Regions from separate parts of the Homo sapiens genome. Here regions 1, 3, 4, 5, 6 and 7 are each reported to be linked to region 2. Evidence: microRNA targets listed by miRTarBase, many of them from high-throughput screens and not tested one by one. Region 2 holds a microRNA gene; each other region holds the end of a gene's coding sequence.
The links. Region 2 holds the annotated microRNA hsa-miR-6512-3p (UUCCAGCCCUUCUAAUGGUAGG, at 1,302-1,323, shown strand). A microRNA usually pairs through its seed, bases 2 to 8, with sites in the 3' UTR of a target mRNA and lowers its output. Matches are read on the target gene's strand: a 7mer-m8 pairs with bases 2 to 8, a 7mer-A1 pairs with bases 2 to 7 and ends in A, and an 8mer does both.

Region 1: miRTarBase lists LETM1 as a target of hsa-miR-6512-3p. Seed matches in the 3' UTR shown: 8mer at 300-307, 7mer-m8 at 2,282-2,288 and 7mer-m8 at 2,448-2,454.
Region 3: the mRNA of LCOR is a reported target of hsa-miR-6512-3p. The part of its 3' UTR that is shown has no 7-base or 8-base seed match.
Region 4: the mRNA of TERF1 is a reported target of hsa-miR-6512-3p. Seed matches in the 3' UTR shown: 7mer-m8 at 987-993.
Region 5: the mRNA of ZC3H12B is a reported target of hsa-miR-6512-3p. Seed matches in the 3' UTR shown: 7mer-m8 at 2,451-2,457 and 7mer-A1 at 932-938.
Region 6: miRTarBase lists CASS4 as a target of hsa-miR-6512-3p. Seed matches in the 3' UTR shown: 7mer-m8 at 2,581-2,587.
Region 7: the mRNA of RHNO1 is a reported target of hsa-miR-6512-3p. Seed matches in the 3' UTR shown: 7mer-m8 at 601-607.

Annotation. Positions count from the first base shown.
Region 1 is chr4:1,811,311-1,814,619 of GRCh38, reverse strand. It overlaps LETM1 (leucine zipper and EF-hand containing transmembrane protein 1), which reads left to right. Exons shown (of 14, transcript NM_012318.3): 14 at 47-3,141. The coding sequence ends at 196. Among named protein-coding and RNA genes, the nearest start is that of FGFR3, 20 kb to the right of the region's middle.
Region 2 is chr2:177,311,847-177,315,133 of GRCh38, reverse strand. MIR6512 (microRNA 6512) reads left to right here and starts at 1,252; the gene lies at 1,252-1,328. All of the region lies in intron 6 of LOC100130691 (Putative uncharacterized protein FLJ44553), which reads left to right.
Region 3 is chr10:96,984,846-96,987,845 of GRCh38, reverse strand. It overlaps LCOR (ligand dependent nuclear receptor corepressor), which reads right to left. Exons shown (of 8, transcript NM_001346516.2): 8 at 1-3,000. The coding sequence ends at 2,712. Among named protein-coding and RNA genes, the nearest start is that of SLIT1-AS1, 120 kb to the left of the region's middle. RefSeq lists enhancers at 2,905-3,000, 2,601-3,000.
Region 4 is chr8:73,045,554-73,048,553 of GRCh38, forward strand. It overlaps TERF1 (telomeric repeat binding factor 1), which reads left to right. Exons shown (of 10, transcript NM_017489.3): 10 at 408-2,570. The coding sequence ends at 584. Among named protein-coding and RNA genes, the nearest start is that of TERF1, 38 kb to the left of the region's middle.
Region 5 is chrX:65,502,785-65,506,117 of GRCh38, reverse strand. ZC3H12B (zinc finger CCCH-type containing 12B) reads right to left here. Exons shown (of 10, transcript NM_001010888.4): 10 at 1-3,333. The coding sequence ends at 2,909. Among named protein-coding and RNA genes, the nearest start is that of LAS1L, 30 kb to the left of the region's middle. RefSeq lists enhancers at 2,805-3,305, 3,306-3,333.
Region 6 is chr20:56,458,349-56,461,681 of GRCh38, reverse strand. It overlaps CASS4 (Cas scaffold protein family member 4), which reads right to left. Exons shown (of 6, transcript NM_020356.4): 6 at 1,300-3,333. The coding sequence ends at 2,935. It also overlaps the pseudogene RPL39P. Among named protein-coding and RNA genes, the nearest start is that of RTF2, 8.6 kb to the left of the region's middle.
Region 7 is chr12:2,887,972-2,891,304 of GRCh38, forward strand. It overlaps RHNO1 (RAD9-HUS1-RAD1 interacting nuclear orphan 1), which reads left to right. Exons shown (of 3, transcript NM_001252499.3): 3 at 1-1,553. The coding sequence ends at 488. TULP3 (TUB like protein 3) reads left to right here and starts at 2,920. Exons shown (of 11, transcript NM_003324.5): 1 at 2,920-3,017. The coding sequence starts at 2,977. RefSeq lists an enhancer at 2,316-2,495 and a silencer at 2,766-2,815.

The DNA.
Region 1 (3,309 bases), not on the chromosome of region 2:
CTGTAGGGCGCAGCCACCTGAGCCTCTCCCTTTCCCACGTGTGTAGGTGATTGAGCTGGTGGACAAAGAAGATGTTCACATCTCCACCAGCCAGGTGGCTGAGATTGTAGCAACACTGGAAAAAGAGGAGAAGGTGGAGGAGAAGGAGAAGGCCAAAGAGAAGGCAGAGAAGGAGGTCGCAGAGGTGAAGAGCTAGAACCACTGGCCTGGGCACCTGTCCTCCTGCTGTGCCGTCACCCTGGCAAGGGCCGTGAGGGCGATTGCTTTGTGGTGATTCTCAGTGGCTCATCTAATATTTTGGCTGGAATAAATCAGAGACTTCCATAATCAAGTAAATTTTAATTTTCATCATTCCACGGAGATTCAGTCTGTCTGGAATCCCGGAACCCCTCCACAGAATCGTGTCTGGATCCACACTGTGGTGTGGCTGCCACGGCCTCCTGGCTCCAGAGGCAGCTGGGCTGGGCCAAGGCAGGAAGGCGCCCCCATGTGTGTGGCCTCAGTCTCAGCATCTGACTGTGCTGCCCTGTCCCCAGGGAAGAGAATGAGGACCACGTGGACTCCGCCCACACAGAGCTGGCTGCTGTGCCCACCCTCAGGGGCGTCAGGAGACACAGCCTGGCCTCCTCAGGGCTGAAGATGCCTCCATTCGCCTGTGGACCTTGATTTCTAGATTTCAGTGTCAATAGACCTGTCTTCCTGCACACTTTCAGTTGGATGTGGGTCATTGTGGAGACAGAGGTGTCTGCCATCTCTGTGGCCTCTGGAGAGTGACGTCTCCCTGCTGGGAGTGCTGGTTCTCACGTGCGGTTTCCCTTGTGTATCGGAGCTCTTTCTCGGCTTTCTATTTCCCCCAGTTCTTTAAGCAGTCAATTGGCACAGAGTTTCCCACGGGGGCTGCAGTGGATTCACTGTGTCAGGGATGAGCCTGGCTTGGGGGTTGGTGGGGCTCTGAAGCGCATTTGGGGTTCTTTGTAGCTTCTAATGTGAGGTTTGAGTCCAGTGCGCCCACAGCAGCATGCCCTTCTCACCCCTTGCAGTGTTGCAGGCTCAGGCCCCTGGGCTCCTTCAGCAAGCAGGCTAGTCAATGAGGCATGAGGATCCGGCACAGGGCATCCCCTGGGGCTTCAAGGGCAATACCCCCGTGCTTAGGGTTTGCCCTGTGCCCTCTGGGTGGGGTGGCCTCCCCGCACTCGGCAGCATGGCCAGGCTGGCCAGGGCGTGGGCAGGTGGTGTCCTGTGGCACCTCCATCCTCCTGCCCAGCCGGCTGTGTCACACTCATCTTTTTAAGGTCAGGTTGGTTCCTGGCAAAAATGTACCTCCAGGGGCCTCCAAGCATAGGATTTGGAAGACAGGAACGGCACAGGCGTCCAGGAAAGCAGCTGCACTCAGACAATGCCTTCTCCATTACTTGAAGCTTCTTTCTGTTCAGCCATTAAAGAAACTTGACAAAATAGGAACAGGAGATATTTCTCAATTGTAAACCTTTGTGCAGGGACAGTTGGCTTCCAGAGGCTTTCAGCTTTCAGTTATTTGAGAAGTTTGTTTTAGATCCTTAACTAATATTTATGAATTCTCTCACCCTGTGTAAGTAGCCTGGTGTTCGTTTGTCCAAGTGTACTTACCCTTGAGAACAAGTCTTGCAGTTGCCAGGTGTGTGCAGACGCCTCTCCTGTGAGCGGCATCGCGGGCCCAGTCAGCTGCCCCGGCTCTCATCCTCGTCCTCACTGCCTTGGCTGAGCACTGTTGACGTGAACAGCCACTGCAACAGGCAGCCCATCCCACTGTCCCCTCTGCCCTGGACTCCGCATGGCCTCCAAAAGCCAGCTTGCCCTCCGGGTGCTGCAGGGGCTTTGCAGGTGGGGAAGGCTCTGGTGGGTGCCTTTGGTGGCTTCCGTGACATCAGCCGTGCTCTGATGCAGGCTTGCTCCCTCGTCATTCTCCCTCGTCATTCTCCCTCATCGTTCTGTGTGCATTTTTCTCTATGTCCTGACCTTTCTTCTTGCACCTAAAAGTGGTGTCTGGGTGCAAATGTAAGCAGTGGTGGATCCAGAAATATGAGCTTTGTGTAATAAGCTTCTTAAAACAGTCCTTTCTTACACCTGCCCAGGGCCAGACCCTCGGTCTTGGCCTTTTTCAGGAGCTAGGATATCTGCGCCTGGTGAAAATGAAACGAATTCCTGATTTAGGAATTCAGTGTTTCCTCCTCACTCCAGCTAAGCACTCACTTTTTTTTTTTTTTTTTTTTTTTTTTGATACAGAGTCTCGCTCTGTCACCCAGGCTGGAGTGCAGTGGTGCGATCTCGGCTCACTGCAAGCTCCACCTCCCGGGTTCAAGCGATTCTTCTGCCTCAGCCTCCTGAGTAATTGGGATTACAGGCATGCGCCACCATGCCCAGCTAATTTTTTTTTTTTTTTTTGAGACAGAGTCTTGCTCTGTCTCCCAGGCTGGAGTGCAATGGCGTGATCTCGGCTCACTGCCAGCTCCGCTTCCTGGGTTCACGCCATTCTCCTGCCTCAGCCTCCCGAGTAGCCAGGACTACAAGCACCCGCCACCACACCTGGCTAATTTTTTTGTATTTTTATTAGAGACAGTGTTTTACCGTGTTAGCCAGGATGGTCTCGATCTCCTGACTTCGTGATCTACTCACCTCGGCCTCCCAAAGTGCTGGGATTACGGGCAAGTTTTTATTAGAGATGGGGTTTCATCATGTTGGTCAGGCTGGTCTTCAACTCCTGACCTCAGGTGATCCACCCGCCTCAGCCTCCCAAAGTGCTGGGATTACAGGCATGAGCCACCGCGCCCGGCCTGAACTCTCAGTTCTAACGCAGGGATTCAGGAATTGGGCTTTCAGACTCCTTCTGCAGTGTCACAGTCCAGACTTTTTTTAAATGAAGGACACCCCGCAGTGGCTCACAGTGGGTCCCAGGGCTAGCAGGAGCGTGCTGGGGAGCCGGCTCTGTCTTTGTTCGCAGTGGGTCCCGGTGCTGGCAGGAGTGTGCTGGTGAGCCGGCTCTGTCTTTGTAAATCCTTCAGGGGTCCTACGGCTGACTCCACCGGACAGCCCGTCCTGGGCCGTGTTAAGCACCTTTTGTAGAAATCGTATTTTTATTAAAACATCAAATCTGTGTTCCTGTAACAGTGCAGAGTAATAATATTTCTGAACCGTTGGGCACACAGGAGCGAGTGGAAGCCGGCAGAGCTGTCCACGTGGCTGCAGGGGCTGGGCCTTGGGGCGCGTGTGGCTGTGAGGCCAGTTCCAGAAGGAGCCTCACCATCCCTGGGGGTTTGAGTGCTGGGCCGCCCT
Region 2 (3,287 bases):
CTGTAATAATACAGGCCTTGTCCAGAAGGGATCAGGTTTCTATGTTATATAATTAGGCAAGACTTTAAATAGTAAGACATGCACCTGTGGTGCTTTTGTCTCTAACTCCACAAATTTCAACATGCATACAAATCAAGAAGGGGTGGGGGTGTTACATGCAAATTCTGCTTCAGTGGGTGTTGGAGCCTGAGATTCTGGCTTTCTAACAAGCTCCCAGGTAAGTGCTGATGCTGCTGCTTTGAGGGCCACACACCTTGAGGAGTAGGAAGAGTACTCATACTGGAAGAGTATTCAGCACGGACTGGAATCCTGCATACATATCTGAGCTCTGTGTTCTGGTATGTATATAGACTTTTTAAAAAAATTAGTAGAGATGGGGTCTCACCATTTTGGCCAGGCTGGTCTCAAACTCCAGGGCTCAAGAGATCCTCCTGCCTTGGCCTCCCAAAGTGCTGAGATTACAGGCATGAGCCACTATACCTGGCTTATATAGACTGCTTCTAAGGTCCATTCTAACTGTACAATTCCATGATTCAGTCACTGTTTGGCTATTAACTAATTTTTTTAGGCTTCTGATTCTCATTGTTTATAAGCTGCTATATTAGAGAATGTTCTGTACTGGAAGGCCAGATAAAAAGTCTTACTTATGGCCAGTAAGTTTTATTTTTCAATCTTCTACAAGTCTGCCTCAACCCATGGGAAATCTTGGCTAATAGTAACATGATACTGGGCTTGGACCATAAACTAAACTTGAGTCAGCAATGTAGGGCTTTGGTTAGATAAGCAAGAATGAACTTGGGAATATAACCAAAAGAAAGGGACAGCTAATCCTACCAGAACAGGCAGTATTTATATGAATACTTTTTTCAAATATCCACAACTGGGAAAAGCTGCTGAACACATAAAGAAAAGTTAAAAGCACGGCATTATTTAGCTAGTGAAAAGAGAACAAAGAATGCCTTAAGAATAATTTTTGAATGGCAGCAGAAACCAGCATATCCTGTGAAGTAAATGCATTTTCAGGACCTCAAAATAGATTTAGGTTGCCTCTAAAGCAGAACTTTCCCATGATAATGATGATCCTAGGTGGTAGGATTGCCAATGGTAATTTTCTTTCCCAAAGATTCTTACAACCAACCATAAACCTACTAGATAACCTATCAGTTGTGTTATTAACTGATATATCAGTTGGGGTTCAGTGCAGACACTTCTCTAGGTACTGAATGCTAAGAATTATATGCTTAAAAATTATATGCTCTTACCATTAGAAGAGCTGGAAGAAGGCTGAGGGAGATGCCTTCTTCCAGCCCTTCTAATGGTAGGAGCATTAAGAGGGATGCTGTTGGGCTCGCAGTTCAGTCCACACAGCTACAATCTAGAGGTCAGGAAGCTATAAAGTCCACTGCTGGCATCACAGTCATTTCTCACAGATGAAGTTAGTGGCAATGCAGAGGCACAGAAAGTCTGGTCATTAAAAACCACATTTAATGTTGCACGTACATCAACAACTACCAGTGAAAACTAATAGGCAGCCAGGCATGTTGGTGCATGCCTGAAGTCCCAAACATTTGGGACACTGAGGTGGGAGGATCCTTGAGCCCAGGAGGTCTAGGCTGCAGTGAGTTGTGATTGTGCCACTGTACTCCAGCCTGGACAGAACAAGAATCTTTCTCAAAAAATAAATAAATAGAGAGAGAGAAGGAGGGAGGGAAGGAGGAAGGTAAAAAGAGAGAGAGAGAAAGGAAGGAAGGGAAAGAAGAGGAAGGAAGGAAGGAAGGAGAAGAGAAAGAAAAGGAAGGAAGGAAGGAAGGAGAAAGAGAAAGAAGGAAGGAGAAAGAAGAGAAAGAAAAGGGAGGAAGGAAGGAAGGAAGGAAAACTAATAGGCAGGGGAAATAGCCTCTCTCTTCCTTTTACCTTTCTAATTTCGCATCATTATATCTGACTGGCACAGTTTAAATTGTTTAACAAATCCTATTAGCAGCTCAGCCTAGAATTATAGTTATTGAGCTTTGTTCCTAACTCAGTATAAATCTATCTTTATTGAAGTATAGCATACAGACAGAAAAATGCACAAATTATAATCAGAGAGCTTGATGAATTTTCATAAAGTAAACACACCTACATATTGCTAGCACCCAGATTGGGAGGCAGAAACTACTACCATACCAGAAGCTCCCTTCATTATCTTTTCTAGGCATTATCCTCCCTCAAATTGACTGTAATCTTGGCTTCTAATACCCTAGACCAATTTGGCCTATTTTTAAACATTAGACAAAATGGAATGATACAGTGTGTATTATTTTATTACTGGCTTTTCCTACTCAACTATTTGTGAGATTCATTCATGTTGAGAGTAATAATAGTATCTTCATTTTCATTGCTGTGTAGTATTCCATTGTATGAATATAACACAATTTATACGTTCTACCAAAGATGGACATTTGGGTTGTTTCCAATTTGAGATTACTGCAACTAGTGCCACTGTGAACATTGGTGAACACACACACACACACATATTTCAGTTGGATATATAAAAGTGTAATTTCTCTGATGCATGGGGTTCAGCTTGAGTAGTACTGCCCAACAGTTTTTCACATCTTCATCAAAACTTGATCTTTTCCATCTTTTAAATTTTAGCCATTCTCTTCAAAGACTAATGCAGTGTATTGAATCTCATTGTTGTTTTCATTTTTCTGATATCAAATAAACACCTTTTTAATTGTTTATTGGCCATTTGGGTACCCTCTTCTGTGAAATGCCTATTCATGTGTTTTGTGTGATTTTCTATGGGCTTGTCTGCCTTTTCTTGTTTTTATAGTCCTTTATTCTGGATATGAGTCCTTTGTCGGGTATATGTATTGATAATATCTTTTGCCACTATGTGGCTTTTTGTTTTTTGTTTTTTTTTTTTGAGATGGAGTCTTGCTCTGTCACCCAGGCTGGAGTGCAGTGGCGTGATCTCGGCTCACTGCAAGCTCCTCCTCCCGGGTTCACGCCATTCTCCTGCCTCAGCCTCCCAAGTAGCTGGGACTACAGGTGCCCGCCACCATGCCCAGCTAATTTTTTGTATTTTTAGTAGAGACGGGGTTTCACCATGTGAGCCAGGATGGTCTCAATCTCCTGACCTTGTGATCTGCCTGCTTCGGCCTCCCAAAGTGCTGGGATTACAGGCGTGAGCCACTGTGCCCAGCCCACTCTGTGGCTTATTTTATTCACTCTTTTAATAGTGTATTTTGAAGAAGACATTCATAATTTTGAATTAGTTTAGTTTATCAGATGTTTTCCTT
Region 3 (3,000 bases), not on the chromosome of region 2:
GACTTGAGTCAATACCACACCTGAGCTTGGAGGTATCTGGGAAACTGCTTTGCCAGTACCTGCTGTAGGTATCAAAGGGCCTTGCAGGATTAGCCCTCAAGTTTTGCTGTTTTCTTTCTTCTATTAACAAAATTAACTGAATCAGCAAAAATGAGATTCAACAAATATAAAAAATTCTAAACTTTTAAGTGTCATAATTATGTAGACTCTTGGTCTATTTAAATGTCCTTATTATAAAGTATAAGTTGATTTTAAAGATGATCCATTGCATTGTTAGGTATATAAAATACATACATACACATTAACACCTTTTCTCACACACAGCCTAGAATGGGAAAGAAGGCTATTATCTTTAACTGAGCTTTTAAAAATGAAAAAGAACTTAGAAAAGGAATGGAATGAATTACAAACTTGGAACTGGAAAAGTTCCACCCACTTACTACCTTACACCTCTCCCTAACCTAATCCAAGCACCTTACAAGGTAGTCGGTATGCAGCCAACGGGGCACCTCTTCTGTACAGGAATCAGCATGCCTGACATTGGCAAACATCAGCTGTTTAAGTCACCACAAACACAATATCCAGTGACAACTATATGAAAAGACATTTTTAAAACCTTAAAACCATTTTTTAAGATTAAATGAACCTATTCAAAACACATTAATGCCTCTGTGCAACTTAATGCTGAGAAAGGGTTGCCAACATACACACTCAGCAGTTTTATTAATGTAGGTAGCTCTTGAATGGCCAAAGTCAAAGATACTAAAAAGAAAAAGACTCATCAGATAGAGAAGACATGAAAAAAAATCAGGGCTTCATAAGACAGCAAGCTTCTCTAGCTATGAAATTCAACACAATTCTAAATTTCTCACAAATCAAATACTTTTCTCCAGTCTTATCCAATCATCAGAAGTTCCCATGATATACAGCAAACCTTTAACAGAATGGGTAGAAGGCCTGTATTATCATGATTTGCATGAAAAAAGTCCATCTGGGCTTATCTAAAGAGATCTGAAACAACCTAAATGGAAAATTTTCAAATAAAAAGGACAGGGCAGCAGCTGTCCATACAAGCTGATTTTGGTGACAGAACCGGTTAAGGAAGCTGACTGAGGCTTCAACAACCAAGCCTTTTTTTGTAGAGCGGCCCAATGGAAAAGTCAAGTACACGCTGCACTATAATAATGGAGCAAGGTCACAGGCACTAGGTTGAAGCCAATGCGCCTGTCTCAGGCTTCACCTGGGAAAGGCAAACAAAGTCATTAAAACATTGTGGCTCTCACTTCTGAGACACGGAATAGAGCCTGACATGACATGGCAGGAGTGATACTACAAGCATTTAACTACTAGGATGGTGTTAATCAATCAGAATGAACGTCTACTCCAACAAGTACATTCACATTGGAGCATACAGCTGAACATCAGCTCTGGGTGTAGGGGGTGTGTGGGCTCTTCACAGATGCTGGAGCTGCTTCCTCCAACTGCAAGGCTGCTCTAACCTTTACATAACTCCATGCTGTTTTAGATCTTTCTGAGTCTGGTACCAAAGTGGTATTGGGGATGCTCACAGAGACACTGGGCTACTTTTAAACCATCTGTCCTTTGCTAATTACTCAACTCAGGGACACCCAAGCACACTGCATAGGGAAAAAATTTTACTGTAAAATTGGGATTGGGAGACATTTGTGGCTGATAACCACATGCAAATGCACCCAAACACACATGGACATACATATTCTTAAACCTTTCTATTACTGGAAATAATAGTTCGGCTTTCTTTGAATATGGAAGTACTCTGGGTAAGAAAGAAAATAAGAGTCATTTTCATCCTAATCATCAAATTACAGCTACAAGATGGAAAAAAAAAATCCTAGGCTTTTTCCTCCCGAAGTAGGATGGAAGCCTTGCAGGAGTGCTAGCAAGACCAGAAATGAAGAAGATGGTGAGAATTAGTAATACAGTTTGGGGATGCAAATGATTTTTTAGAGTTTGTAAACAAAAATTAACACTTGTGACATATCTCTTGTCCCATGGGCACATAATTTAGAATACATGCTCTCAAATGACAAAACATCAAAGGTGAGAGGAGGGACCAACAATGAACATGATCTTTTTTAAAAGGGGGTAACAGAAATAGTAATCTTTTATAATTATAAATCCTCTGCATACCATAAAATGATTTGGTTTAGCTTTCAAACATCATCTAAACAAACAAACAAGACAGAGAGGGAAGTTCACTGCTGGGGTTTGCAAAGAAGGGCATCTGTTCGTGGGCAGATGCTGCAGGGTGGCTGCTGAAAAGCTCCTTTTATGTGCATGATGGTGGTCTTCTCGGCTACAGTACAAGTGCTTGTGCATCAAGTATAAAATACAAGCCTTTAATCACATAGATCAGCTTTTTAGCTTTTGTAAATTTAAAAACAAAAAGGATAAATAAGGCACTGTACTTTTAAAAACGAAAACTGCTTGGTTCCAAGTTTAAAACCCAAGGAACAACCAGAATATAATATATAACTTCCCTTAGCCTCAGAGAAGGACTCTGCAAGTTCCCTTCTCCATCTGAGATGCATTTTCTGACATCTCAAATTACGGTGTTCTCCATTAACTGTAAATTTGAAAGGCTTGATAAGCTTATAAAAGCAGATTTAGTTAATGCAAAATAAAAGGTTACTTCTATAGAACAGTTTTACTCTTGGCTACCATCTTTCCAATCACTTTGCATCCAGCCGCCTCCGTTTGCTGTGCGAACAGTCCAGCTTTGCCTTCAGCTTTCGCTTTCTCTGAGCTGCACTGCTCTCTGGGGTTTTCGTTGAGGGTCTGGCCCGAGTCTTTCCACTACTCTGCTTCCTATTCGTGGCTTTCTGAGGCCTTGAAGAGGATTCACCGGCCCCCTTCTGTTTTGCAGGTTTCGTCAGTGTTTCCGAGGCAATAGACTGGGAAGGCCTTTTGTTTGTATTCTCTTTTTCTTTCCTGGAGGGAGGGCAGCTCTTCCCAGCGGAC
Region 4 (3,000 bases), not on the chromosome of region 2:
GCAGAACAGGTTTTTCACTGAGTTCATTAGTGAACTACTAAACATTCACAAAGCCTATTTGGAGATTTGGAGGATAATAAATACAACTATTAACAATTGTAGAAGAGCATTTTAAGAGACAGTGTGGGCTTAAAGTCAGACAAATTCAGTTGACATGTAGCACTGCCACTTTCTAGCTATCTGATCTTGGGCAGCTGAGCTTACATAAAATGAACAGTAATAATAATGACCCCTAAAAATGTTACGATAAATGTAAAATCTTTTAAAAATCTAAGAAATGTTTAGAGAAGTCTTCCGTCTTTAAGAAACTAAGCATTATTTTGATTTTTTAAAACTGGCATTTATAGTAGGTATTTTCTTTTTGAATAATTGTTTCTGTAAATAACTGTTTTACTTTTTATCAAAAGGCATGGCTTTGGGAAGAAGACAAGAATTTGAGATCTGGCGTGAGGAAATATGGAGAGGGAAACTGGTCTAAAATACTGTTGCATTATAAATTCAACAACCGGACAAGTGTCATGTTAAAAGACAGATGGAGGACCATGAAGAAACTAAAACTGATTTCCTCAGACAGCGAAGACTGATTGTGTTTGTAAAAGCTTGATGAAAGGACAGTTAAGTATTTTGATCACTGCATTTTGTTTGAAACTTGTGTCATTGATGTAATTTAAAACTTTTGTTTAAAGCATTACAGTATTTTTCTGTGACCATCAATTAATGAGGGTTTGTGCTACCAGAGTTAAAGCATATGCTATCATTGTATTCTTTAAGAACCTTATTTTGATAAAATGTAAATTTGTTGAACCCTGCCACATTTAGTATCCCCACCCCCAAATCCTGTTCCAATGAAAAAATTAAAACCTGATACGAAAAAAAAAAAATTCCAGTTAACCTATTTTGTGTCTGTAGGCTGACCTCAACCCTGTAACGTAACCCATTAAAATGAATTTCTTTTTTTTTAAGACAGAGTTTCTCTCTGTTGCCCAGGCTGGAGTGCAGTGGCGCAATTTCAGCTCACTGCAACCTCTGCCTCCCAGGTTCAAGTGATTCTCCTGCCTCAGCCTCCTGAGTAGCTGGGATTACAGGCACACACCACCACGCCCAGCTAATTTTTGTATTTTTAGTAGAGGCGGGGTTTCACCATGCTGGTCAGGATGTTCTCCAACTCCTGACTTCATGATCCACCCACCTCGGCCTCCCAAAGTGCTGAGATTACAGACGTGAGCCACTGCGTCCTGCCTAAAATGAATTTTCTAGATGATTGAATAACAGTAGTCCTTTGATAGAAGATAATGACTTGGTTTATGGCCTTAATATACTACTTAATTACTTAAGATGTTTATTAATAGAATGATAAATGTACAGAGTAACCTATAAGCATGACATACTTTTGCTTTCAGTAGTTTCATGTAAAGAAAAAAACTTGAAAATAGTAATACCTGAGTACCCATGGGAATAATAGACACTGGGGAGGTAGGGTGGGGAGCGGGAGCAAGAGCTGAAAAACTTACCTACTGGGGACTGTGCTCACTACCTGGGTGACAGGATCATACGTACCCCAAACCTCAACATCACACAGTATACTCAGCTAACAAACCTGCCCATGTGTTTCCTGAATCTAAAATAAAAATCGAAATAATTTTTTTAAAAAAGAAAAAGACAATAGTATTACCCATGGGACAAAATTTGTACTATTAGCAAGAATCATTTTGTGTCTCATTTAGAAACAATTTGACTTTTGTTCCAGTGTTTAAACTTTGACAAAAATGGTTTTGAATAGATCTTTATAACCTGATGCCATAAATACAAGATTCTCTGATACCTTCATTTAATATATCAATATTGGGCCTAAAACAGTATTCTGTAAAGCTTAAATTGGTATTAACTATGATCATCTTGATGTCTATGATAGATAATAAACAAGGTCATACATACCTTACTAAACAATTTTGGTTTTTCACCAACATTTTATTCTTTAAAAGATTTAGACTAACAGAATTATTTAGCATTTCGAGTCATGTGCTTTATTTAGCAAGTGAGTAAAAATATTGGAATATTGAAGTATTTGCATAAAAAATCAAATGGTGGTGTTTTGTAATCTCTATTGTATTTCCTATTAAGGTTTCATATATTACTTTCCCATTGTTCCTGAATTTGTTATCCTATATATAAACAGAAACATGGATGAGTACCATATACTTCCTGACTCCTTTATCTTGTTACACCACAAGATACTGCACTATTTATTGGAGATATTTTGATGATTAGTGCCAAGGCTGGCATCATGAGCCAAAATAGACTTGTTAAGTCAACCTCATTCCAAACACCTGCTATAGATCATCAAATCTAAGTTGCCATTAATTGTAAGATGTCCTGTTATTTCACACACACAACTAGAAAAGAAAAATCGGTATCAATTATAGTATGGTGCTTTCTTATTTTGAATTTTACTTATTAGAAGAGCTATTTTAGATGTATTTAAACATAAGATTTTTATCACATAACTTGTGGATACAAAAAAAGAGAAATTGTAAGCAAAATAAGTTGGGTAATATATTCCTAAAACCTCATCTTCTCCAGTCTGAGTATTTTTTTGAATCCTTTTTTTTGGTTTTGTTTTGTTTTGAGACAGGGTCTCACTTCATTGCCCAGCCTGGAGTGCAGTGGCACAATCACAGCTCACTGCAGCCTCTACTTCCTGGGCTCAGGTGATTGTCCTACCTTGGCCTCACAAGTAGCTGGGACTACAGGCATGTGCTGCCACTCCCAGCTAATTTTTGTATTTCTTTGTAGAAATAGGGCTTCTCCATGTTTCCCAGGTTGGTCACAAACTCCTGGGCTCAAGAGATCCATCCACCTCAACCTCCCAAGGTGTTGGGATCACAGGCATGAGCCACTGAGCCCTGGCCCCTGAATTCTTTTTAGTCAGAATTTCTGTTGAGGTAATGTAAATTCACATGCAATTGTAAGACATAATATAGAGATCTCTGTACACTTGGC
Region 5 (3,333 bases), not on the chromosome of region 2:
TTAGAAATAAAAGCTCCCTCACAACCCCTGAGCTACTTCCCTGTGACACACAGTGCCACAAACCTCATGGTGAAAATTCAGTGCCAAACCTAGCTTCAGATGAGTTTTGTACATTTGTTTCTATACAATCAGGAAAAAAAGAGATACAATTTGTATCAACAAAAGGTCATTTCTGGTTATTTGAGGCATTGCTCCTAGCCGCTTTTGGTTCATACCAAAAAGAAGAATGAGAGGAGAATGACAATCGTTTTTAGTAAATCAGAAATACATATGCTGCCTTAAAAAATATTTTCTGTATTGGGAGGAGCTTACACAGTTTCTGAGTACTAAATATGAACATGTTCAAGACGAATTGTAGGTGACAAGATGAATCTTGTGCTTCTCTGTAAATTGTACAGCTAGTGGATAGTGTGGTGCCATTCATGATCTTGGTAGGAAGATGAACTAACTGGCACATAGGCAGTAGCATCATCTGAGATTGTCAAATACCCTGATTTAGACACGAGTCCGATTTAGAAAGTCCAAGAAGTTGAAGGTATGAAATGGTGTTTGTGTGAAATAGCAAGCACTGCAGTGGCAACTGTCACTCTGTGGATCTACCTGATTGATAGAAAATACTTTTACTCTTTTTCAATATGCTGGGGTATACGAAGATCAGAAGATAGGAGATAGAATGTAAAGCTGTGGTTAACTCAAGTGAAACATTGGTTAAGATGCAGTATTGATCAACTTGGACAGAGACAGAAAGCCAGAAAGCAGCATGCAAGCCATTGTCAAACCACCAGAAACAACCCTGACTACAGCCTCACATTCAGAGTGTTTCACAGTAAGAAACATTTATAGGCAGTGTCACACCTTCTCATGAAGAAACAAAAGGCCAAGGCCCGGCCTTCTCAACTTTCATGAAAAAACGATCATAGAAGTTAGCAAGTTCCAGCTCAGGAAATAGTGAGCTGATCATGGTTCGAAATATTGAAATATACAATGGATTCAAAAAGGGAATTCATTTAGTGCAGCTTAAAAAAAACAATAAACACCTCTTCTAGAGGCATTTAGCTATGAAGTTTTCCACCCTGAGCAAGATACAAGTTGCGCAAATGGTGTCGCCCAAACCAAAAGTCCTGCCTTCTAATAACTCATTTAACAATTATTTAACAGCAAGTGCACTCTTTGCATGGATTTAAAGTGAGTAACTGAGCCAGCTATTAGTAAAGATGCAGTATCCCCTTTTGGAAACTTCCTTTTTCCACAAATAAAATCCCCTGGTTTTGTTTCCTAGAGAAATTCTGTTCCACCAATGATTGACCTTATTACCCAAAGGGTGGACAGGAAGAGAAAGTGGATACATGGCTGTGCACTGTCCTCCATTACATTTCATCCAATGATGTTGAATACTGCATAGGTCAGAAGTCCAAAGAGCATCCAATAGTCCCTCCTTGAGTGAAGCTTTTTTATTCACCATTTAATGCCACATGGGTTTGGCCATCTCTCCTGGGATAAGGGAAGTGGATTGTGGTAGTAAGTCCCCTGGTCCTTGTCAAACTCTTCTGAGCTTGTGTAGCACACACATACTATGCTTGGAACTTGAGCTTAACCATCAGTTTCTCTGCAGAAGACTGCAACCTGATCCCTAATTTGCTAAGGTGAAGAGACTTGGAAGGTAAGAACTGTTAATAAATGTTGGCAGGTAAAATGTGCAAAGGAAACAGAGTTGCTTTGCTCTGGTGCCTAAGAAAGCAATGTTCAAATATTGCCATATAATTTCTCTCTCATAACTAGTTAAAACTATGAAATGTGACTTAAAATCATCAAGTCAGATTAGTGACCTATACAGCTATAGACGAAGGACTGTGTAGAGCCTACCCTCTCATTATCACTATATAAAAGGTTATACAGAGATACACACACATCTCAAACCAAATATATATATTCATACATGCAATATAATTGCTAATAATAGCTTTAAAATATAGTTCTAGAAGCTTCAATGTGACCCTATAGTTTCATTAATATAGATTGAGTGATCAGATATCCATGCAATAAAGTATGCATTTACTTTTAAATAGCTTTAAATATTTCTATTAGAAAAAACCTAAAAGGTTAATTCAACATATGATCTGATCCTGATGCTTTTGCTCTCTAAATTGGATATATCATCCATACTTTGTAATATAGAATATGTGACTACGAAAACTCTGGTAGGCTGGGCGCAGTGGCTCACACCTGTAATCCCAGCACTTTAGGAGGCCAAGGTGGGCGGATCACTTGAGGCCAGGAGTTTGAGACCAGCCTGGCCAACACGGTGAAACCACGTCTCTACTAAAAATACAAAAATTAGCTGGGCATGGTGGTGCACGCCTGTAATCCCAGCTACCTGGGAGGCTGAGGCCATAGAATCACTTGAACCCTGGAGGTGGAGGTTGCAGTGAGCAGAGATAGTGCCACTGCACTCCAGCCTGTGTAACAGAGTGAGATTCTGTCTCAAAAAAAAAAAATAAAGAAAGAAAGAAAGAAACGAAAAGAGAAAAAGGAAAACTCTGGTAATGGAATCCTCTGGGATTTCTTACATCTAGACCTCTCCCCCTGGGTTTTGTCCTCCATTACCTGCATGGTGCAGTGCAAAGGGGCATGGGACTTGGATTTAGAGGACTTGGGTGTGTGTCTTGACTTAGTCATTTGCTAGCAGTGTGACCCTGGCTAGCCACTTAATTTCACTGACCTTCACCTTCCTTCTCTATAAAAGAGGATGTTAGTAAGACGTACCTCACAGGGTTGTTAAGCGCTTAAATGATATAAACACTCTAACTTGTAAAGCGCAACACAAATTATTAGTTACTATAATTATTGTATTAGTGTATTATTAGTATTAATATTCATATTTGTATAAAGAAATAAGTACTATGTCATATCAACGTGCAGCCCTAAGCTTAGCAACAATCAAGGCTGCCAGTTGCTGGGCATCTGCTGTGTGGGGATTCTTCTCCATCACTGCAAGGACGATGTTAGAAGGGAAAATATTGCAGAGGTTCTTGTAGGTCTGATACTGGTGTTCTGGGATCATATGCTCCCTGGAATCATTGCACATTCCAACCCAAGGATTCCTCCAAAGCTGCTCCATCTTTTCAGGCACGCTCCGTACCATGACTGGCTCATAACATGGTTGCATGAGGCTGTTACTCAAGGGATAGGAGTGGTAGCCATAGGAGTCAGTTGTACAGGGCAGCGGGTCCCAGCTGGCATGCTGTTCCCGGCACAGGGGAGGTCGTCTTTGCCTCACGGGGTTGCTCTCATAGAGGCGGGAGTCGGAAATGCTATCCATCCGAGTCATCACCA
Region 6 (3,333 bases), not on the chromosome of region 2:
GCCTGGTCTCCCCTAGATTTCACCCCGGGTACCTCTTCCCCTTGCTGATCTCACTTTGCATCTGTTCAATGTAGTAAGTCACAGCTGTGAATATGACTGTATTCTGAGTCCTGTGAATTTTCCTAGTGACTCATTGGACCTGGAGGTGGTCTTGGGGACCACTGACATAGTCTCTGATCCCAGAATCTTAGATCTTCTGTCTGCATCCATGAAATGGTGACAGGTTAACTTGTTAATTTCAAAGATGAAACCTCAGGCCCATCACAGTGCTTGAAAGAGCAATCCCGTTACCTCTCAGGACCCATGGGAGAGTGAGTGTGGGGTGGGTAGGAATTCCAGATCTAAATTAACTTGGGTGTTCCATGCCCTGCTTATCATGGAGCTTTCAGGAGCAGCACCTGATCTAAGCCAGTCCAAGCCGAATGAAGTCCTTTTCTTCTCCTCTGGCCAAGAATCAAGAAGAGTGTAACCTGGGAAAACCACCTTGCAATCATGGGGGTTAACCCAGAGCAAGTGGGACCGAGAAACTGGTCCTGGATCACACTGTTGGAGCCCCTGAAACCAGCCAGCCTTGCGGCTAGTTTGCCTCTGGATGATTTTAAGACATATGAGTTAATAAATTTCCTTTACTGCTTAAGACAGATTGGGTATGATTTTCTATCCCTTGTAAGAGAAGTCCTAACTGATGCAGATCATGGCTGTTCAAAGAATAGGCCCCCTGGAGGGCCTCTGTCCAGTTGTAGAGAACCAAGCCTCACAAAGATGGGATCCTTTTTTTAAGGACCCTGAGACTAACTTAATAAAAATAACCAGCCTCCAGCAGTCAACATTTTACAAGTGCCTACCAAGGAAAGAGTAGCAGATAGGAGTTGGACTTGGTATCATTTCAGGTGACTTACAGCCTGGAGATGCTCTTCCAAGCTGTAGAGGTGTTTATGCATTTAGGAGGCCCAGACCATCACTTAAAATGAAGTGATGATGTAACCATGGCAACGTGAGCTGAGGACTCAGCTACAAGGAGAGGAAGAGGAGGTGGTTTGAGTTGAGGGGAGCTCTGTGCCACTTTCATATCTGTGCCCAATGATGGGCATCCTGTCCACACCACGCCTTCCTGTCTGCACCACCACAGGTGATGGCTTTGTTTTCCAGCACCAATCCGGTGCCTAAGAGCAGGGCCTCTACTCCATCTCTCTGCAGACTTCAGGGAGAAGCACTGGAGTGACAAAAGTAAACATCGGAGGCTTCACTTGGGTGACACAGATCAAAGACTTTTCCAAAAAAAGAATGCTGCAAATGATGTTTAAAGTCATGATTATATTTAATATTATTAGGGTGGTGCAAAAGCAATTGTGGTTTTTGCCATTACTGTCTACGGCAAAAACCGCAATTACTTTTGCACCAACCAATATAAATTGTAACAGATTTGAGACAAAATATAAAATTTTTCAAATTGAGCAGAATTTATCAACCCAGAATCTATAATGTATGAAATAAATTAATAGAGAACCCAACAGATCATGTTATGTTGTAAATATAACATCTATCTTTAGGTTAAAGTAACATAGCAAAAATATATATTTATGGGTGCAAGACACATACATAATTTGTACCAATCTCACAGAACTAATTCAATTCAAAACAACAAAAAACTTACTCTATTATCTAATGGATGCAATAAAAATTAACCATTTGAAGATAAGTTCTCTTGCACTTCCCCTACTTACGTTTTTCCTGGCACCTGCTATACTGTGTATGTATTTCTTCACCGCTTTACTGCCTGACTCCCCTACTAGATCATAAGTTCCAAGAGGGCAAGCCCTCTGAAACACTGCTATGTCTCCAGCACCTAGAACTTGGCATGTAGTAGGCATCCAATACATAAGTGTTAAATGAGTGAATTTAAAACACGTACATGCCAGGAATGGTGGCTCAGGCCTGTAATCCCAGCACTTTGGGAGGCCGAGGCGGGGGATGGCCTGAGGTCAGGAGTTCCAGACCAGCCTGGCTAATATGGTGAAACCCCGACTCTACTAAAAATACAAAAATTAGCTCTTCCTTTCTCTGCCATTGTGGTGTGTGCTTGACTCTGCTTCTTGCCATGTCTTCTCATAAGACTTCCAGGATTAAGTGATTCCTGACCGAGAAATTAAAACAAAATCGCCCCACTCCCCAGTGGATTCAGATGAAAACTGGTAATAAAATCAGGTACAACTCCAAAAGGAGACATTGAAGAAGAACCAAGCTAGCCCTATAAGGAATTGCACATGAGAGGGCACACATATTTATGCTGTCTGAAGGTCACAGTCATGTTACCACATCAAGCTGAAAATGTCACCGCTCTCTGGAGAATTGTACATGTTTTATTGGGAATATATTTTTTCTTTCTGAATCTGTTATGAATGCATTGGTTGGCTGGGTTCAGTAATAAATATGTGAGACCTTTCATTAAAAAAAAATACAAAAATTAGCTGGGCATGGTGGCGCACACCTGTAGTACCAGCTACTCTGGAGGCTGAGGCGGGAGAATTGCTTCAACCCAGAAGGCGGAGGTTGCAGTGAGCTGAGATCGCGCCACTGCACTCCAGCCTGTGTGACAGAGTGAGACTTTGTCTCAAAAAACAAACAAAACATGCACACATTTAATCAATATAAAATATTATTTCTGCGAAGTCACTTCAAGCTGATACTGCATACTCCATATATGCTAAACTTCACAAGGTCTTTACCTCATACCTGACTCTCTTTCCTGACCCCCTGCGGGGTAAGTCAATGCCCTGGGGTTGCTTAGCCACTTGGTACTACCAGCTTTGGGCACCAGGTCTGTTTCAGCTCATTGGTGTATGCCCCGGCTGGCTTTTCCCATAGGGCAGAGTTGCACAAGTTGTGGGTGTGAAGCTGAGAGGTGAGCAGAGGAGGAAGGGAGGTAGACAGTCCTCATCCCAGTGTCCCTCTGAACTGCCGCGTGTGTTGCTCCAGCTTCTCAGCCTCCGCCTGGAGGTGCCCCAGCGCGGCAGGGCTGGGGTACGTGAGCACGGCATTCTTAGTGGCCAGCGCTACGTCCTTGAGCAGGCTGCAGAGGTGACTGCTGCCACGGAGGATCTCGTTGCGCACGTCCCTCTCCTGGGTCTCCATGCACAGCGTGTCCACCAGCTTCTGTCCCACCATGATGACCAGCTTGCTCTGAGTGATGATCTCCGCGGGCTGGCTGCTGCTGAGGCTGCCGTGAAATGCGCTGATGGCTTTGAAGAGCGCCCCAAAGTAGAGCCGGCAGTGTTCAGATAAGCGGGGTTTCCTCTCAGGAGTCTGTTGACTCGAAGGCTGAGGTATAAGAGG
Region 7 (3,333 bases), not on the chromosome of region 2:
ACCGGGCGAGACACTCAAGTCGAAAACCTACCACCTCCAAGTTTCCACATCTAACTTTTGAGAGTCCGCAATCTTCCAGTTCAGAGACATTGGGGATCCCCTTAATCCGAGAGTGCCCCAGTGAATCAGAAAAGGATGTTTCCAGAAGACCCTTAGTTCCAGTGCTCAGTCCCCAAAGCTGTGGGAACATGTCAGTGCAGGCACTTCAGAGCTTACCTTATGTGTTCATTCCACCTGATATCCAGACCCCAGAGTCATCGTCTGTGAAGGAAGAACTCATTCCCCAAGATCAGAAGGAAAACAGCCTTCTAAGCTGCACTCTTCACACTGGCACTCCTAATAGCCCAGAGCCTGGACCTGTTCTGGTTAAAGACACCCCCGAGGACAAGTATGGAATAAAGGTCACATGGAGGAGACGACAGCACCTGCTTGCTTACCTCAGGGAGAGAGGGAAGCTGAGCAGAAGCCAATTCCTTGTGAAAAGCTGACTGCCATCAGTAATCTCAATAGAAAAGAGATATGTTTTCTGGAGTCATAAAGGAATTCAATTCCTAGGGTTTTTGTTTTTGTTTTTGAGATGTAATATTGCTCTGTTGCCCAGGCTGGAGTGCAGTGGTATGATCTCACCTTACTGCAACCACCACTTCCTGGGTTCAAGCGATTCTCCTGCCTCAGCCTCCCCAGTAGCTGGGATTACAGGCACCAGCCACCATGCCTGGCTAATTTTTTTGTATTTTTAGTAGAGATGTGGTTTCTCCATGTTGGCCAGGCTGGTCTCAAAATCCTGACCTCAAGTCATCTGCTGGCCTTGACCTCACAAAGTGCTGGCCCAGCCGAGATTTGTTTTCTAAGATACTTTGTGTCATGAACAGTTCAGTTTAGTGTCATGAACTATTCACTTCATATTTTTCTTGTATTAACTGTTTAAATTTTTAAAATATCTTGTAGTAACTCTTTAAAATGTATGTAAGTAAATGGCTGCAGAAAGTTTTTTTAGAGAATCCTGCTTCCATCAGTAATACAGCAATATTACCCCATCCACTAATGGTCTTTGTTTCCTTAACCACTACTCATTAATCCTTAATCACCTCATTCAAACTAATTCATTCTGCATTTTTGAGTACCAACTCTTGTCAGGCTCAGTGGCAGCTTCTACGACCTGATGGATGGAAAAAAATCAAACTCTGTGACTCTATGGTTGACTGCCACCTCTGCAACCTTGACTCATCTGCTGAAAAGGCAAGAAGAAGAAAGGGCAGCAAGCCCTGTTTTAGGGACTACATAAGATGAGGGGAGATAAGGGGGACATAGATGAGTTCTTTAGGATTGCGTGTGTTTTGAGTTTTTGTTTCTAACTGAAGAAATCTGTCAATATTAAATAGGGTGGGAAAATGGTTTCTTAGAATAACTGTTCAACTGTGTGTAAATAAGGAAAGTTTTCAATGAGTATTACTTATTGTAATTAATGCAGAAGGACTTCCCCAGTCAACCGAATGTCTCGGCCTTTTACTCAGACAAGTAGCATCTCATTAAACCCATTCATTTAGCATTCATTCAGCTGGACCTACTGTGTCAGGTCCAGCCCCAACTAGATCAAGCAGGGATTACTGTATATTTTACAGATGGGAGTTTGATGCAGAGAATGAACCATGCACAGGTCACACAGTGAGTGCACGCTGACCCAGGCAGTGTAACGGTCCACTCTCAGCGTGTGCCTCCTAAAGTACTAACTTGTAGGTTCAAAACCAATGTGGAAACAACTTTGACCTTAGAACGCCATAAAGCCATTTGTGCAGTGACTTGTCAGGACTCAGGATGTTTTGTAGGGACTATAATGTGCATGTCGGTAGGGAGAAAGGGACTGACATTTGGGGACGGGATTTATTGGAGACAAGAGTACACATTTAGACAGGGGCTCTCACGGTGGGCTATGGATGTTTGAGGAAGGCCCACAGGAGGTAGAAAGGTAGATGGAAAGAGTCTCCAGGACGGGCCCACGCCTGTAATCCCAGCACTTTCGGAGGCTGAGGCGGGTGGATCATTTGAGGTCGGGAGTTAAGAGGCCAGTCTGGCCAACATGGTGAAACCCTATCTCTACTAAAAATACGAAAAATAGCCAGGCAGTAGTGGCCCCTGCCTGTAATCCCAGCTACTCCACAGGCTGAGGCAGGAGAATCGCTTGAGCCTGGGAGGCGGAGGTTGCGGTGAGCTGAGACCGGGCCACTGCACTGCAGTCTGGGCGAGAGAGAAACCCTGTCTCAAAAAATTAAAGTCTCTGGATTCCCTCGTGTGCTTTAGGGGAGTCTGTAGAGCAGGTCTAGGAATGACCTAAAAGCTTGGGCTGGAGTAGGGGAAGCTTAAGTTCTGTGCAGTTGAAGTTCAAGGCCAGCCTATGGAAGATGCGTTTCACTGGGAGTGACTGATGGAGTGGAGAGGGTACCAGAGGGGGTCCACGAAGGCCGCTGGTATCAGGGCAGGGGCCAGAATGGGAAGCGGCAGAGGTCTGTACATCCTCACAGGGCAGACCTCGGGAAGCGCTCTGGGTGGGCTCGGTAAAAATGGCGGGGGTGCGAGGAGCCGTTGCGTGCGTGGCGGTTGGTGCGGTATAGGAGACTCCTCTGACCGGACTCGCCTGCTGGCCGCGCGGCGGGCGAGGCCCAGGCAAAAACAAAGTCTTCCCGCTCAGTACCGGCCCCGCGAGGCGCTCCAGAGGACCAAGCCTTAGCTCGCGTCACCCCACCCCCGCGCAGGCGCGTTTAACTCCCGCTCGCCTCCCGCCCCTTAGCAACCCTCCCGCATCGTTGGGCCCCGGCAATAGCCAATGAGACAGGAGCCACGAGAACACGGACCAATCGGCGGCGGCGACAGTGTGGAACGCGGTTGCCAGGAGGCGGGACGCGGCGGCGTGCCAGCCTAGCCACTCTAGCGACGGCGGGGAAGAGTGTGTACGTGGTGGGGGCTTCCTCGGTGGCGGGCATGGAGGCTTCGCGCTGCCGGCTCAGTCCCAGCGGCGACAGGTCAGACAGGGCCGTGGCAGGTCTCCTCCTGAGCGAGGCGGAGGGGCGAAGCGAGAAGGCGGAGGTCCTCTCCGGGAGCCCTGCGGGGAGAGGGCGGGACTCGGGACTTGGCGACTCAGGGAGGGACTGGTTTCGGCGGCGGGAGGCGACCCCCTCGCCCTACTCCCGTGTGGGGACCCCTTTCTCAAGTGGAGCGGCGGCACTACATCCCGCGCCGTGGGCAGAGACCTTTGGTTCAGGTCCCTGCTTAGGAACTTCTGGAGTTTTCGTGACGGGCTCCCTCGGCCCCTCTGGGCCTCGGGTTTCCCTCGGGGGA